2 linked regions of the Homo sapiens genome follow. The protein of the gene in region 2 interacts with the protein of the main gene of each other region in a pairwise test. Each region holds a gene or a part of one and is shown on either strand. Other genes may lie near its edges.

Evidence for each region.
Region 1: the proteins of TMEM256 (region 2) and MEP1B interact in a protein complementation assay, tested with the Homo sapiens proteins (one study listed by IntAct).

The regions. Positions count from the first base shown.
Region 1 is NC_000018.10:32,199,896-32,207,172, reverse strand, and holds part of MEP1B (meprin A subunit beta isoform 1 precursor), read right to left. Parts: intron 4,281-7,277; coding exon 4,163-4,280; intron 2,992-4,162; coding exon 2,813-2,991; intron 1-2,812. UniProt on the Homo sapiens protein: Membrane metallopeptidase that sheds many membrane-bound proteins. Exhibits a strong preference for acidic amino acids at the P1' position. Known substrates include: FGF19, VGFA, IL1B, IL18, procollagen I and III, E-cadherin, KLK7, gastrin, ADAM10, tenascin-C.
Region 2 is NC_000017.11:7,402,198-7,408,887, forward strand, and holds TMEM256 (transmembrane protein 256 precursor), read right to left. Parts: upstream 1,901-6,690; 5' UTR 1,888-1,900; coding exon 1,803-1,887; intron 1,493-1,802; coding exon 1,461-1,492; intron 1,194-1,460; coding exon 1,113-1,193; intron 1,013-1,112; coding exon 869-1,012; 3' UTR 778-868; downstream 1-777. Other genes in the region: NLGN2 (neuroligin-2 precursor), read left to right, coding at 6,059-6,515.

The sequences.
Region 1 (7,277 bases), on a different chromosome or scaffold from region 2:
TGGAGAATATAATAAACTCAAGCAATTTTTGCTACAACTAACAACAGTTTCATTATTCCCATCTTACAATATAATATTCAAGCTTAGAACTGTGATACCAGCAGTCACACTGAACATATCTAAGGTTCTATTGCAGCCCATAGTTAGGACATTGGCATTTAGTCTAAGGCTGTAAAAATTGCTCGTGGAAAGGAGGATTCTAGAAAGTGCTGCTAACCAGCCTGGGCAACAAAGTGAGACCTCATCTCTAATAAATATTTTAAGGCCGGGCGTGGTGGCTCACGCCTGTAATCCCAGCACTTTGGGAGGTCGAGGCAGGCGGATCATGAGGTCAGGAGTTCGAGACCAGCCTGACCAACATGGTGAAACCCTGTCTCTACTAAAAATACAAAAATCAGTCCATTGTGGTGGTGCGCACCTATAATCCCAGCTACTCAGGAGGCAGAGGCAGGAGAATTGGTTGAACCCAGGAGGCGGAGGTTGCAGTGAGCCAAGATTGCACTACTGCACTCCAGCCTAGGTGACAGAATGAGACTCCATCTCAAATAAAATAAAATAAAATAAATATTTTAAAAATTAGCCAGGCATGGTGGTGCATGCCTGTAGTCCCAGCTACTCCGGAGGCTGAGGTGGGAGGATTGCCTGAGCCTGGGAAGTCGAGCCTGCAGTGAGCTGTGATCACGCCACTGCACTCCAGCCTGGGTGACAAAGTAAGACTCTGTCTCAAAAAAAAAAAAAAAAAGTGTTGTTGAACCAGTCAGGGCATTGGCCAGCAACGATGGCAGGCTGAGGACGTCCACAGTAGATGGAGATGGAAGTAAGAAGGCTTTGAAGGGATGGTGAGATGAAACCTGGGAATGATAACTTTCTAGTTATCCTACAGAGGAGTCATTAAAAAGCATTGACATGCAGTTATTGACTAACCATAATTCATGGTTACTGGAATAGGTGTAGATGTATTTAAAGCACAATGAACCAGCCTGGCCAACATGTTTAAACCCTGTCTCTACTAAAAATACAAAAATTAGCCGGGTGTGGTGGCGGGCGCCTATAATCCCAGTTACTCGGGAGGCTGAGGCAGGAGAATCACTTGAACCCAGGAGGTGGAGGTTGCAGTGAGCCAAGATCGCACCACTGCACTCCAGCCTGGGCAACAGAGCGAGATTCTGTCTCAAAATAAATAAATAAATAAAGCATAATGACTATAGTTAATAATAATGTATATTTCAAAATTGCTAAGAGAATAAACCTCAAATGTCTCACCATAAAAATGATAAGTGAGGTGATGGCTATGTTAAGTAGCTTGTTTTAGTCATTCCACGTTGTGTACACATGTCAAAATATCACTGTACCACATAAGTATATACAATTATGATTTGTCAGTTTAAAATAATAATAAAAAACAAAAATGAATATATTTAGAGAAGACATTCAGGCCATTTAGCATTATACTAATGGGCAACTGATTTCAACTTGAAATGGAATGATTCTGTGGACACTTTAAGGTGGTTCTGATCTCCAAAACATAAAGATGTGTTATCAAATGTGAGCAGAAGTTTAGATCAAAAATAAGACTTTGGGAATCCTAAGGAGTGTGGCTGTGGATTAAAGCTAAACACTGCTGTTTCTCTAGAAATCTTTTAGTTTGCTGCTATGCCTGACCGCATTTGAGATAAGCAGAGTCGGGGGATAAAGAGCAAGAGCTGTGATTTCAAGAAGTGTGGTGTCAGGGGACCTTGTATAGGGCACTCCTCACAGTGCCTCAGACATAATAGCAATGCCCTTTCCTCTGTCTCGCCCCACACAGGCAGGACAGATGAGGAAGCTGAGTGTCACTGTGGAATGTGGAAAACATGAGCTCTAGTCAGACATAGTTATTAAGACTTTGTGACTTTGAACACAAAATCACAAACAGTTCATGCTACTCAACTATTACTGAAAATTGTTCCATGAAACAATAAATCCAAATACTCTACAAGCTACTCTGCAAAAAGAAAAAAGAAGACCATGATCAAATCATTTTGGGAAATGCTCCTTTTCTTAGAGATTTACAATTCCTGTCAACCCAATAAACACTCAGAGCAGTATAGCAGGATAAGTAAGTCTAATTTCTTTTAACCTAGGTGTTATGCCTTGAATATGTCCCCCCAAAAGCATGTATTGGAAACCTAATCCCCAGTGCAACAGTGTTGGGAGGTGGGGCCTAATGAGAGGTAATTAGGGCATGGGCTCCGTCTCATAAATGGATTAATCCCATTGCTGCAGAAGTAGGTTTGCTACTGCAGGAGTGGATTCCTTGTAAAAGGACAGATTTGGTCCTGTTTTTTCTCTCTGACTCTCCCTTGACCTCTGCCCTCTGTCATGGTATGTGACACAGCAAGAAGGCCCTCATCAAATGCCCACCCCTTGATTTTGGACTTTCCAGCCACCAGAACAATGAGGAATAAATTTCAGTTCTTTATAAATTACCCAGTCTGTGGTGTTTTGTTATAGCAGTGCAAGATGGACTAAGACTTGGGGATTTGCAAAACTAATTTGGCCACAGACTCCGTTCCACATAATACTCATGAACATATTGTGGGACTGAATATGCTTTAAGAACCACAAAACCAGTTTCTAGAGCATATCTAGCTCATATGGGTTCTGGAATACTAGTGCTCCAATAACTCAGAATGAGTTCAAGCTGAATGAATTAAGACATCAAAACATCAAAGTTTTAAAATTATTAACAGTTGCCACAGATGACAAGAGAGGACACATGCTTAGAAATTCAGTCCTTAACTAAAAACATAGGAAAAAAAGAGAAATGTACCTGACAGAATTCTGTCCCACATTATCCTGACATAGTCATCCCGGTCAGAACGCGACTGCTCATGCCAGAATCCCAGAGCGTGGAGGAACTCGTGTTGAACTGTTGCTATTCGGTCACAGTTTGCCCCGATGGAAAGTTCTTGCTTCCCAACCCGCCTATTTCCTACTGAAGACCAGCAGCTTACAGGAGAGTTTACAAGAAAGGGGGAAGAGAATGTTACAATCTGAGGTCTCAGGGCAGAATCGCCACTGCCTAGTCCACTTCATTACCCACTTCATTACCCACCTTTGCTCTTACATCTGAACACTGTGCGTTTCTCTCATAACCCAGGTGACATAGTTTGGACAATTGTCCCCACTCACATCTCATGTTGAACTGTAATTCCCAGTGCTGGAGGTGGGACCTCATGGGAGGTATTTGAGTCATGGGACGAACCACACATGGCTTGGTGCTGTCTTCGCGATAGTGAGTTTTCATGAGATCTGGTCATTTAAAAGTGTGTAGCACCTCCCCCTCCCCACTCTTTCTCTGGCTCCTGCTTTTGCCATGCGACATGCCTGCTCCACCCTCACCTTCCACTATGATTATAAGCTTCCGGAGGCCTCCCCAAAAGCTGAGCAGATGTCAACACCATGCTTCCTATAAAGCCTGCAGAACTGAAAGCCAGTTAAACCTCTTTTCTGTATAAATTACCGAGTCCCTGGTATTTCTGTACAGCAATGCAAGAATGGCCTAATATACCAGGTATTGTATAATATTAAAAAACCTTACAGACCAGGTGATCTTTAAAGAACTTGCCCTAACACCAAATATTACATAGGAGCAAATCGTCCTCAAGGTGGTCTAGACCTGGTTTTTCTTGTGAATTTCAAAGTCTTTGAGCTCCTCGTTATGCCTGTGCCCATTAACAAGGGTTTTACAGGGACAGCAACCACTCAGAATTGCTGAGCTCAAGACAAATAATACTGTCGCCTTCTTAACCCAAGAAATAAGAGTGGTTAGGTTAAAATAAGCTTAAGCACAGACATGGACACACATAAATACACATGTTTTTTACTTGAAAGGGATAAAGAGTATGTAAATTACAAACGGGCTGAAATTCACAAGGTTGTGGGTCTGATGGCATGCAATCCCATCCACTTTCCACTTTGTCTAAAGGCGGTTACATGTATGGGAATATAATTTCTATGTCTACAAAAACTAGATCCAGTTGTTTTTTACTCTCCAGCAACTAGCAAGAAAGTCCCCACCCCTTCCTAAAGGTCAGAGCCTAGGATGATTGCTGCAATGTAATGTCCCAGGCACTAGAGTTCTCCTTAGATGCCTTAGAAGACTAAGTCTGCAACTTACCCACTGCCCTTGAACACTGATATATAGTTTGTTTCTCCAGCCCAAGGCTTAAAGTCAATACATGTTTTAAGGCGATAACGTTCAAATGCATTGAGGATAACTCCCTTAGCATTCATTTCTGAAGGAAGAAAACAAACAAAAATAAGCTTATTAAAACAATCACCACTGAAAAATCTTCCATGGAAGCAGGCCACTGCAATATATTGCTTATCATGAGTTAGTCCCTTCATGAATGTTGAGTCTTTTATTTTTACAAAAATTAGAATTCAGTACCCATTGAATATCATATACAGTATCTGCTTATTCTTCAGATCCCTTATTTGGCCTTATATTTCTCTAGCACTCACTCACTAATGGTGCATTACTAAACAATAAAAATGCATCTTTACCTCAGAGAACATATCCATTGGATCACAGGCAATCAAAATAAATAATCACCATCACGTACTTCATCTGAGAAGCCATAATATGTATTTAAAGCCACACAGCTGGGCTTTTAATCTGAGGATCTTCAGATGGGAGAGTCTATGAATACCCTGAAATAGTATGCAAAGTGTGTATGTGTGTGTGTGCATATCTACAAATGCAAAGTGCATTTTCTAGAGAGAGCTTTCATGAGGTCTGCAAGTGAGTTCAGGGCCCAAAATAAGGGTAAGAGCCAATGCTCTGGATATAAGAGTGATATGGATATGGAGCTCAAAGAAGGCAGAGGTGTGGAAGAAACAACATGCAGGAAAAGAAACTTGTGAGTGACCAGGAGGAACGGGCTGTATCAGATGCACATGGAGAGGCATCACATGGGCCAGGTCCTAGTGACGTGAAAGATGGGAGCCTGCCAGGAGGTGGGAGACAGTATGGCAGAGGGGAAAGTGCTTGGACTTTGGAGCCAGACACACCTAAGTTCTTCCCTATCCTCACCACTCACTTTTGACATAAAACTTTTGCCAATTCAATCAACCTTTGGAGCTTTGGTGTTATTATCAGTTAAGTGAGGAAATAAAATCAACTTTGCAGGATATTGTGAGGATAGTAAGAGAAAGTAAAGGTGAAGTTCCAAGTAAAATTAGCATTTGTCAAATGTTCATTTCCTTTCTCCCTTCTAGAGTAACCATTGCATAGACATTCAAGGAAGATTACTTGGTATGCCTCTGTTGAGGCAGGTCTAAGAAGATCAAGAACAGGATTCACATAGGGAAGACCCTAAAATCCATAAGTTGTAAAAGGCACTAAGTTCAGACTTTTACAATACCACATAAGTAATACACTATCGTTATAAATAAGTTAAAAATTGATATGAATAAAAAGAAATTTAAAATCCTATCATCCAGGAATAATCAATCACCCTTACCATACATTTTGCCTTTGAATACATATATAACATACATATGTTAATATTTCTATAAAAAATAAAGTCATCTACATAGCATTTTACCAACTATTTTTTCACTAAATATTATGTCATCAAAATATTTTTTCATCATTATTCTTTTTATCATTTTAATGAATAGAGGATTACAAATTGGATCCATTGGACATTGGATCACAGGCAATCAAAATAAATTGCCACCACATACTTAATCTGAGAAGCTATAATATGTATTTAAAGCCTCACAGCTGGGCTTTTAATCCGAGGACGCTGAGATGGGAAGGTCTATGAACACCCTGAAATAGTATGCCGTGTGTGTGTGTGTGTGTGTGTGTGTGTGTGTGTATCTACATATGGCTGTTAACGTTCAAAATGTTCTGTCCTATAAGTATCATATTTGGGTCATTATTTCAAATGTAATATTTCCTTCAAATAAGGTATGATAATACTGACCACCATATCACTGTTTTAAACAGAATGTAAAAGAGCATACTAGTTTAGGCCATTTATCAAAACTTAATGAGGATAGTTTCTTGAATTAATAAATAAAGTAACACGTGAAAGCTTTATAAACACTGAGGCCCTTTACCAAGATAAGATCTTTGTTTTCCATATGCCTTTATTTACTGAGGGCCTTAGTTAACCTTGCGTTATAGATGCAGAAAGCTCCACTTGGAACCATGCCAGGCTTTGGAAAATGAGGCAAGTTGCTGGCAATCCTAGGAGTTCAGTAAGCAGCTGTTCAGGATTGTTTCCCCTTAGTAGCCCCTTCAGGTTTCTAGCACCTTCCCCTTCATTTCCATCCCCAACTCTTTACCCTCAGCCTCCCCCACTGCCTTTTCTGCCTTGGTGCTAAGGCAAGGAATTATAACTTAGGCCCTGGAAACTATAAATGGCTGCTATGAGTATTACTCCTTTCAGGGAAGTTGCATCTACCAGCCAGGTAACATCTGAAGTTCAAGCTCAAAGACTACAACCCTACTGGTAGAATTTCACAGTTTGACCTACTAGAATCTGAGTAATAGGGCCTTCCAGAAATCAACCCTTCATAGGTATTTATTTTTGCTACCTGTAAGAGTGGCCTTGCTTAGTAATTTTCTTAGTCTGAGTCATTTGAAGATGGTATACATTTCTGAAACGTAAGGATACTTTTCTTAATTTGAACATAGAAAACAAGTTGAATTCTACAATATTAAACAAAAGTATTTTCTAAATAAGAAATAATCAAAATCACATAATTGAAAAAAATTGTTCTATAAAAATTTGAAGTTTGATTCTATTATAAAGACTATACAATATGAAAAAATGCAATAACATTAAGTGAAAAAATTAGAACAAAAGATTTAAGACATCATAGTTATAACTATGTAAAAATGTGCACAGTTTGGATGGTAGGATCTAGGCTGAATTTTTACCTAACATTTTTCATTTATATATATACATATGCTTATCAATTTATTTCAAAAATGTTATTACATATAATACGCCAGAGACTATGGTAATCCTCCAATTTGCAAGATGAAAAATAGCTCTTATCCTCAAGGCATTCATTATGTTGTTTATAATGTTGTTTAAAAAATAAATAAAGCTCATGGTTAAATACATGGCAAAAAAAAAATAGCCTAAGATATATATAAAATTAAAGCTCCCTAATCTTTCATGGAACATACTTAGGAGAATAAGTTTTTTAAAAAAAGAAATATAACTGGATGTGGTGGCTCACGCCTGTAATCCCAACACTTCGGGAGG
Region 2 (6,690 bases):
CTAAAAATACAAAAATTAGCCAGGCATGGTGGCATGCACCTATAATCTCAGCTACTTGGGAGGCTGAGGCAGGAGAATCACTTGAACTCAGGAGGTGGAGGTTGCAGTGAACCAAAATCGCACCACTGCACTCCAGCCTGGGCAACAGAGTGAAACTCTGTCTCAAAAAAATAAAAATAAAAATAAAAACAGGCCGGGCGTGGTGGCTCATACCTGTAATCACAGCACTTTGGGAGGCCAAGGCAGGCGGATCACCTGAGGTCGGGAGTTCAAAACCAGCCTTGCCAACATGGCACAACCCCGTGTCTACTAAAAATACAAAAAATTAGTTGGGCATGGTGGCAGGCGCCTGTAATCCCAGCTATTCAGGAGGCCGAGGCAGGAGAATCGCTTGAACCTGGGAGGCAGAGGTTGCAGTGAGCCGAGGTCGCGCCACTGTATTCCAGCCTGGGCGACAGAGCAAGACTCCATCTCAAAATAATAATAATAATAATAATAAAATTAAAAACCTAGTATGCATCAGAACCACAAGATGAGCTTATTAAAATACAGATTCTCAGGCCCGAAAGAGTGCTTCAGTAGGAATCTGTGTTATTTCAAGCATTCTTTATGACTTTGATGCCCACCAGGGTAAGAACATTATAATAAGTTAACTTAAAGTGACCAGAATCCCCAGACCTAAGGCTCACTGATTAAGTCTTAGGAAATGGAGGGAGTTCAGAGGTTGAATCCCCACCCTTCGTCCTCCAAGAGGTTAGATGAACAAAGACTCCAAAGTTTATTTGCCTTTCCTTTTTAATCCTCTTCTTACTCCAACTCTTTAAAAAAAAAACTGCCCAGAAAACCCAGTAATTAAGCAAAAGGGAGCTCAAAGAGCCAAGGCAAGCCAGCCCAAGAGTAGCAGGGTCCCTCCCGCAGGGGCCAAAGTCTGGATGCTGGGGTCTCCACTCAGAGCCTGGTAGTAAAAGCTGGTGCAGAATAAGGTCGTTCCGGAAGCTAGCAATAACCCAGCCTGAAGGAGACACAGCACAGAAAACAGGATTGTTAAGAACAGGGCAGGCTGAGAGGGAGTGTGTGGGGCTTGGTCAGGGTTAGGCGCAGGGAAAGATTACCCAGAGTGGCTTTCTGCAATGGGGCACCCCTAACAGGGCCAGGCTGTGTAAGAAGTGGTGTTTGTTGGCCTTGTCAAACAGCTGTAAGAAAAACAGAAACGAAGGGATGTCGTAGGCAATACAGGTACTGAGATCCCCTGATGACACAAGGGACCAAAGTTCCTTCCCCCACCCCACCCTTGAAGTCCCAGCTTGATCCCAGGCCTTTGGCTTACAGAGCCTTTGGCCTTTGCTGCTCCAGAGATCCGCGGCTCGCCCCACCCTCTCCCCGCCCACTTCCCCCAGGGACCCCAGACTTTGTGCCTTCGTAGACCCACGAGTCAGGGAGCCCCAGCGCAGTTACTTCACCTCCTTCCCGTAGGCATCTGGGAATTGGGCGCCTGTGGAGAAAAGAAGCAAAGGTTAGCGGTCCTAGTGCCAGCCCTGACCGCCCCCAATCCGGGGGGACCCAGGTGGACATTGGCGAGAAAGGGCACCCCCCCCCCCGCCCCAGGAAGCTTCCGATTGGTGGGAACACGCTCGGGCAGTACTGGGAACCAATTGGACCCAGCTGGGGGACTTTAAAAGGTTTAGGGCTCCGCGGACTGTCTGATAAACGAGAGGCCGGGCACCTCCCATAGGTTACGCCCTTGCAGCAGACCCCAGAGGACGCCCCAAGTACAGTCCCATCTTCGTCCCCAGCCCCCTGACCGTGCGCCCCGTAGGAAGCGAAGCCTAAGGCCGCAGCTCCGGACAAGGCGCCCAAGCGGCGGAAAGCTGCAGCTGGCCCGGCCATAGCTGTAGAACAGGACGCACCGGACCAACGCCGCCCAGGCCACCCAAGAGGCCAGCCAATCCCGACCGCCCATGCAAATAAGGTTCACAGGCGCCCAATCCGGGCCGTGTTCATTTCAGCATTGCGCTCTTCACCCGCCTTTGTAAAACCGCTGCAGAGTGGCGAAGACGTCTGGCGGGCGGAGAAACCAGCACCAATTAGGAACAGAGGAGCTAAGCAGTGGGGGGGCGGGGTTGAGGGCGGGACTAGGGGGATTTGCGTCAAGGATTGGCCCACTTTCCAAGTTGATCGCCTCTTCGAACCCCCCACCCCCATGCTCCGGCCAATTTCCAAAGATCCCGGTCTTCTCTCAAAGTTCCGCCCCTTTTTCCACAGGCTCCTCCTGTTCAGCTTCAAATCAAACCCACTACCAAAAAGAGGCGGCCCGAAAGATAGCAAAGCCCCACCTATTGCCAGTAAACCCCGCCCACTGCACAAATGGCCCCTCCCCCATGTCTGAAGGCTCCGCCTTCTTTGTATGATGCCCCGCCCCCTGTAGTTAAGATATTCTCCCCCCCGCCAGCCCTCCGAGACCGCGAGAGCCCCGAGGGTGGGAGATCCGGGGGAATGTCTCCACCCTGCCCTGGCCCGCTACGTCCATCTGTCCGTCTGTCCGCTCCCGCCTCTTCCCACCATCTCCAATCCCCCCATTCTCCGGAGGGCGGGCGGGCAGGCGGGTGCGAGCGGGGGGTGCGAGCGGGGGGTGTGCGCCGCTCTCTCGGCAGGGGGCGGGGGAGGCGGCCGCGCGGTGACGCGCGGGGCTGCTGCGGCTGCTCCGCCGGCGGATCATCACTCTCGGGCTGGGATGGACGCGGGGCGGGCCGGCCCTGGCGCGCGGAGCCAGGAGTCCGGGCCTCCCGGCTGCTGAGCGTCCCTCGAAGCCTCCCCTCACCCCCGCCTTCCCTCCTAGGATCCGCGCTGACCCCCGCCCCGGGGCTCTGGACTCGGCTCCCGCCCTCCTCTGACTCCCCGGACCTCCCCCTCACGCCCGCCCTCGGGATCGACTAGATCCCTCCCCCTCCCCGAGGATTCCGGCTGGATCCCTGCCCCTGCACCGCGGATCCTGCGCTCCCGGGCCCCGGGCCCCTGGGGATTAACGTGGACTCCTCCTCCAGCACCCGATCCTTAGGATCCTCCGCCTGGACCGCCTTCTGGTCCCTCGAAGCCGGCCCACGGAACCAGCGGATCCTCAATCTAGTCCTGTCCCGTTGCCCCCTCCTTTCTCTATCGTCCCTACTGCGGGGTTCCCTGTTCTCGGGCTCCCCCTGATCCCATCCCCTAGCTCTCCTTTTCCCGGGGATCGACTGGATCCCGGCCCCGCCCCCCGGGGCTGGGGCGATCCCCCTCCCCCGCCGGGTGAGGCGCTGCGGGCGGGGGCTGGGCCTGCGGGGCCGCGGGGGCTCAGAGGCCGCCGCCCCCTCCCGAAGGCCTTTCGCCCCCCACTCGGAGCCCTGGATGGAGGCACCACGGCCCCAGGGCTGAGCCAGGTAGGACCTAAGCCGGGTCGGTGGAGGGGGCTGCGTGGCGGTCCACTGGGGTCTCCCTCTCCCCATCTCCCTCCCTGCGCCTGGTTTCCCCCAGCCTGCTCTGTCTGCGTGTCTCCGCCTAGGGATGCTCTCGCCGTGTCTCTGCGTCTTGGTCTCTTTGTCTCTGCCTCTCTCCAGTCCATGAATGATCCTTTGAATGGGCCCACAGACCCCGTGTGTTCCCATCTCCCCCTCCCCCTCCTTCTCCCCTTCCCAGCCAAGCCATTTTCACCACTGCAGGAAGGGGGGGCCTGCGGCCTGAGCCCCCGTCCCTCAACTCTCCCCGGCTGGGGGAGTCAGGCCTGGGCAGGAATGGAGAGAGAAGGCAGAGGGATAGGGAGAAGGAGGAGGGAGCAAGATGTGGCAGACAGAGATGAGGAGAGAAAATGGGGGAGACAGTGATGGGGAAAGACAGGAGAGAGAGACAGAAGGCTTAAGGGGGAAATTTGGGGAAGGCATTTGGAGAGAGAGAAAGAAATGAGAAACACCAAGGAGAGAGATACAGAAGAGAAAGATGTAAAAAGACCGAGGGTGAGAGACTGAAGGCAAGAGCTGGGGCAAGCTGGAAGAGGCCCACAAAAGATGCTCCCAGGGAGCACTACGGAGAGGAGAGAGATGGGGGGGCCTCCAGTGGGAGGGAAGGAGGGAGCGGAGCTGGTGGGAGGAGGCCAGGGGCCCAGAGTACCCTCAAGAGGAGAGGGTGACTGAGGCAGATCTTGTTGTGGGGAGGGGGAGGGGGCAGCAAGGCCATGGTAGCTGAGCCCAGTCTGGCACAGGAAAAGGAGATCCTGGGGGAATCAGCCCCGAGCCACCTCCAGGTGATGGAGGAATAGAGGAGCCTTAGAGAAGCTGAAAGGCAGGGGGCATGACTGGGTGTGTGTGGTAAGGATTCCTGTGTCCTCATCTCTGGAATAAATTGACACCTGCAGAGAGCCACCCGCGGGCTGGCGCCTGGCTCTGAAAACCCCGCGTCAGCAAACAGCTCTGGCGGCTGGTGGGGGGGCGGGGGGGGGGCTTGCCGAAATGACCTGGGTGTCTGCCCCTCCGGTCTGATCTTCTCCCTTGGCTGGCCCCTGCTGCCCTGAGCACCCAGGCATCAGAGCAGCAACTGTAGGGGGGGTGGCAAGGGGAAGGGTAGGTGAATGGATGGGTTGGGATGGGAAGAGAAGAAAGCTCAGTGTTGCCCCCAGGACATGGGTCACAATGGCTTGCAAAGATGAAAAGGTGGTGGGGTCCAAGGTTGCTTGAAATTGCTGGAGGGGGGCAGTCAGTAGGCTCCTGTGATGTCTCTTCAAGCCCACCTCAGCACCCCCTCTCCCAAGCCAGAGGCCTGGTCACTAAGGCTAGGCTTTGATTGGCCAACAGGCAGGGCTTTTAGCGTTCTTGGTGCCCCCAATCTCCCCCTCCTCTCAACATATATACTTCTTCCTCTATGTTAAGGTTGGGGGGAACTCTTGCATTCTGACTCACGCCTTTGCCCTCCCCTTCATGCCCTGAATGGACCACCAAACCAAGCCAGCCCCTTCCCGTCTTCCTCCAGAACCCCCCTCCAGGGTTAAAGCTGCAGCCCGTTGCCGAGGTAACATTGCGGGGCAGCATCCCGTCACCCGGCAACCGGCTGCAGGATCACGCATCTGTCCCTGGATTTGCCCCTCCAGCGTCCCCTCCCTACTCTAACCCCAGCCTCAAGGTACCCCAACTTCTGACGGAGGAAATGGAGAGAGTCTGGGGAGAGAGGGGTCGCAGGCAGCACAAATCCTTAGCGAATGGTGTGTTGAAGTGGGGATAAGGTGCTAGGTTTGTGCAGTCCCAAGAAAGGCCTGAGTCTGGCCTGGGGTGGGGGTTCAGCGCCATGAAATTACAGCTCAGGAGTAATTAACACATATAAACAAACCTGCCTCTTCCAGCTAATTAATGACTTGGTATTTTTGTTTTCTCTTCCTTGTCTACCTCATTCCCTCCCAGGGAGGTGGGAGCTGGGACTCCTGAGTCCCTGAGGAGAACCTGCCTGGGAGGGATACATCAGCTGGAAGGGAGCATGCTGGGTCTGGAGAGCTGACCCGCCTCTCCTCTGGCTGGGTCCTGGACTTGAACCACATCTGGGCCCCACCCCCAACCTAGGCGTCTGCTGAGGGGAGAAGGGCTGCTGGGTGGGAGTGGGGAGGTGTCAGGGGGCCTGTGGGTGGGAGAAGGGGGCAACTTGGTCTGAATTCCAGGTCACTAACCACTTGTCTCTTCTGTTTCCCCATTCCTTTCTGTCTGCCCCATCCAATTTCCCTTGCCCTCTTCCACCTCTGTATTTTTCTGTCTGTCCGTCTGTCTGTATCCTGCCTCCCTGCCCCTCTCGCTCCACCCCCCGCAGGTCGGGCCTGCCTTCACCTTCTCCCATTTCCTTCCCCTTCCCCACCCCGTGCCCCCTCCATGGAGAGGAACAGACCCCTTCTCTGTCCAGTCTAACCCAGGTCCCTCCCCAACCCCCTCCTCCCTCCTTTCCCCCCGCCCCTCCTCCCTCCTGGGGCGAGGGGGGCCTCCCTCCCTCTCCCCCCCTTCTCTCTCTCTCCGAGGGGGGGGGGTCCCAGGGAGGGAGGGGGGGTCCCCCGATCAGCATGTGGCTCCTGGCGCTGTGTCTGGTGGGGCTGGCGGGGGCTCAACGCGGGGGAGGGGGTCCCGGCGGCGGCGCCCCGGGCGGCCCCGGCCTGGGCCTCGGCAGCCTCGGCGAGGAGCGCTTCCCGGTGGTGAACACGGCCTACGGGCGAGTGCGCGGTGTGCGGCGCGAGCTCAACAACGAGATCCTGGGCCCCGTCGTGCAGTTCTTGGGCGTGCCCTACGCCACGCCGCCCCTGGGCGCCCGCCGCTTCCAGCCGCCTGAGGCGCCCGCCTCGTGGCCCGGCGTGCGCAACGCCACCACCCTGCCGCCCGCCTGCCCGCAGAACCTGCACGGGGCGCTGCCCGCCATCATGCTGCCTGTGTGGTTCACCGACAACTTGGAGGCGGCCGCCACCTACGTGCAGAACCAGAGCGAGGACTGCCTGTACCTCAACCTCTACGTGCCCACCGAGGACGGTAAGGGCGCGGGCACAAAGCCGGGCACCCCGTGGACACAGCCCACAAACGCACATGCAGACCCTCAGGCACTGGCACCGCTCTAGGGCTCAGAGCTGGGCCTTTGTGGGGGCAGTGAGGGACGGAGTGTCCCTGCAACCTCTACGTGCCCCCTGAGGATTGTAAGGGTGCCTCC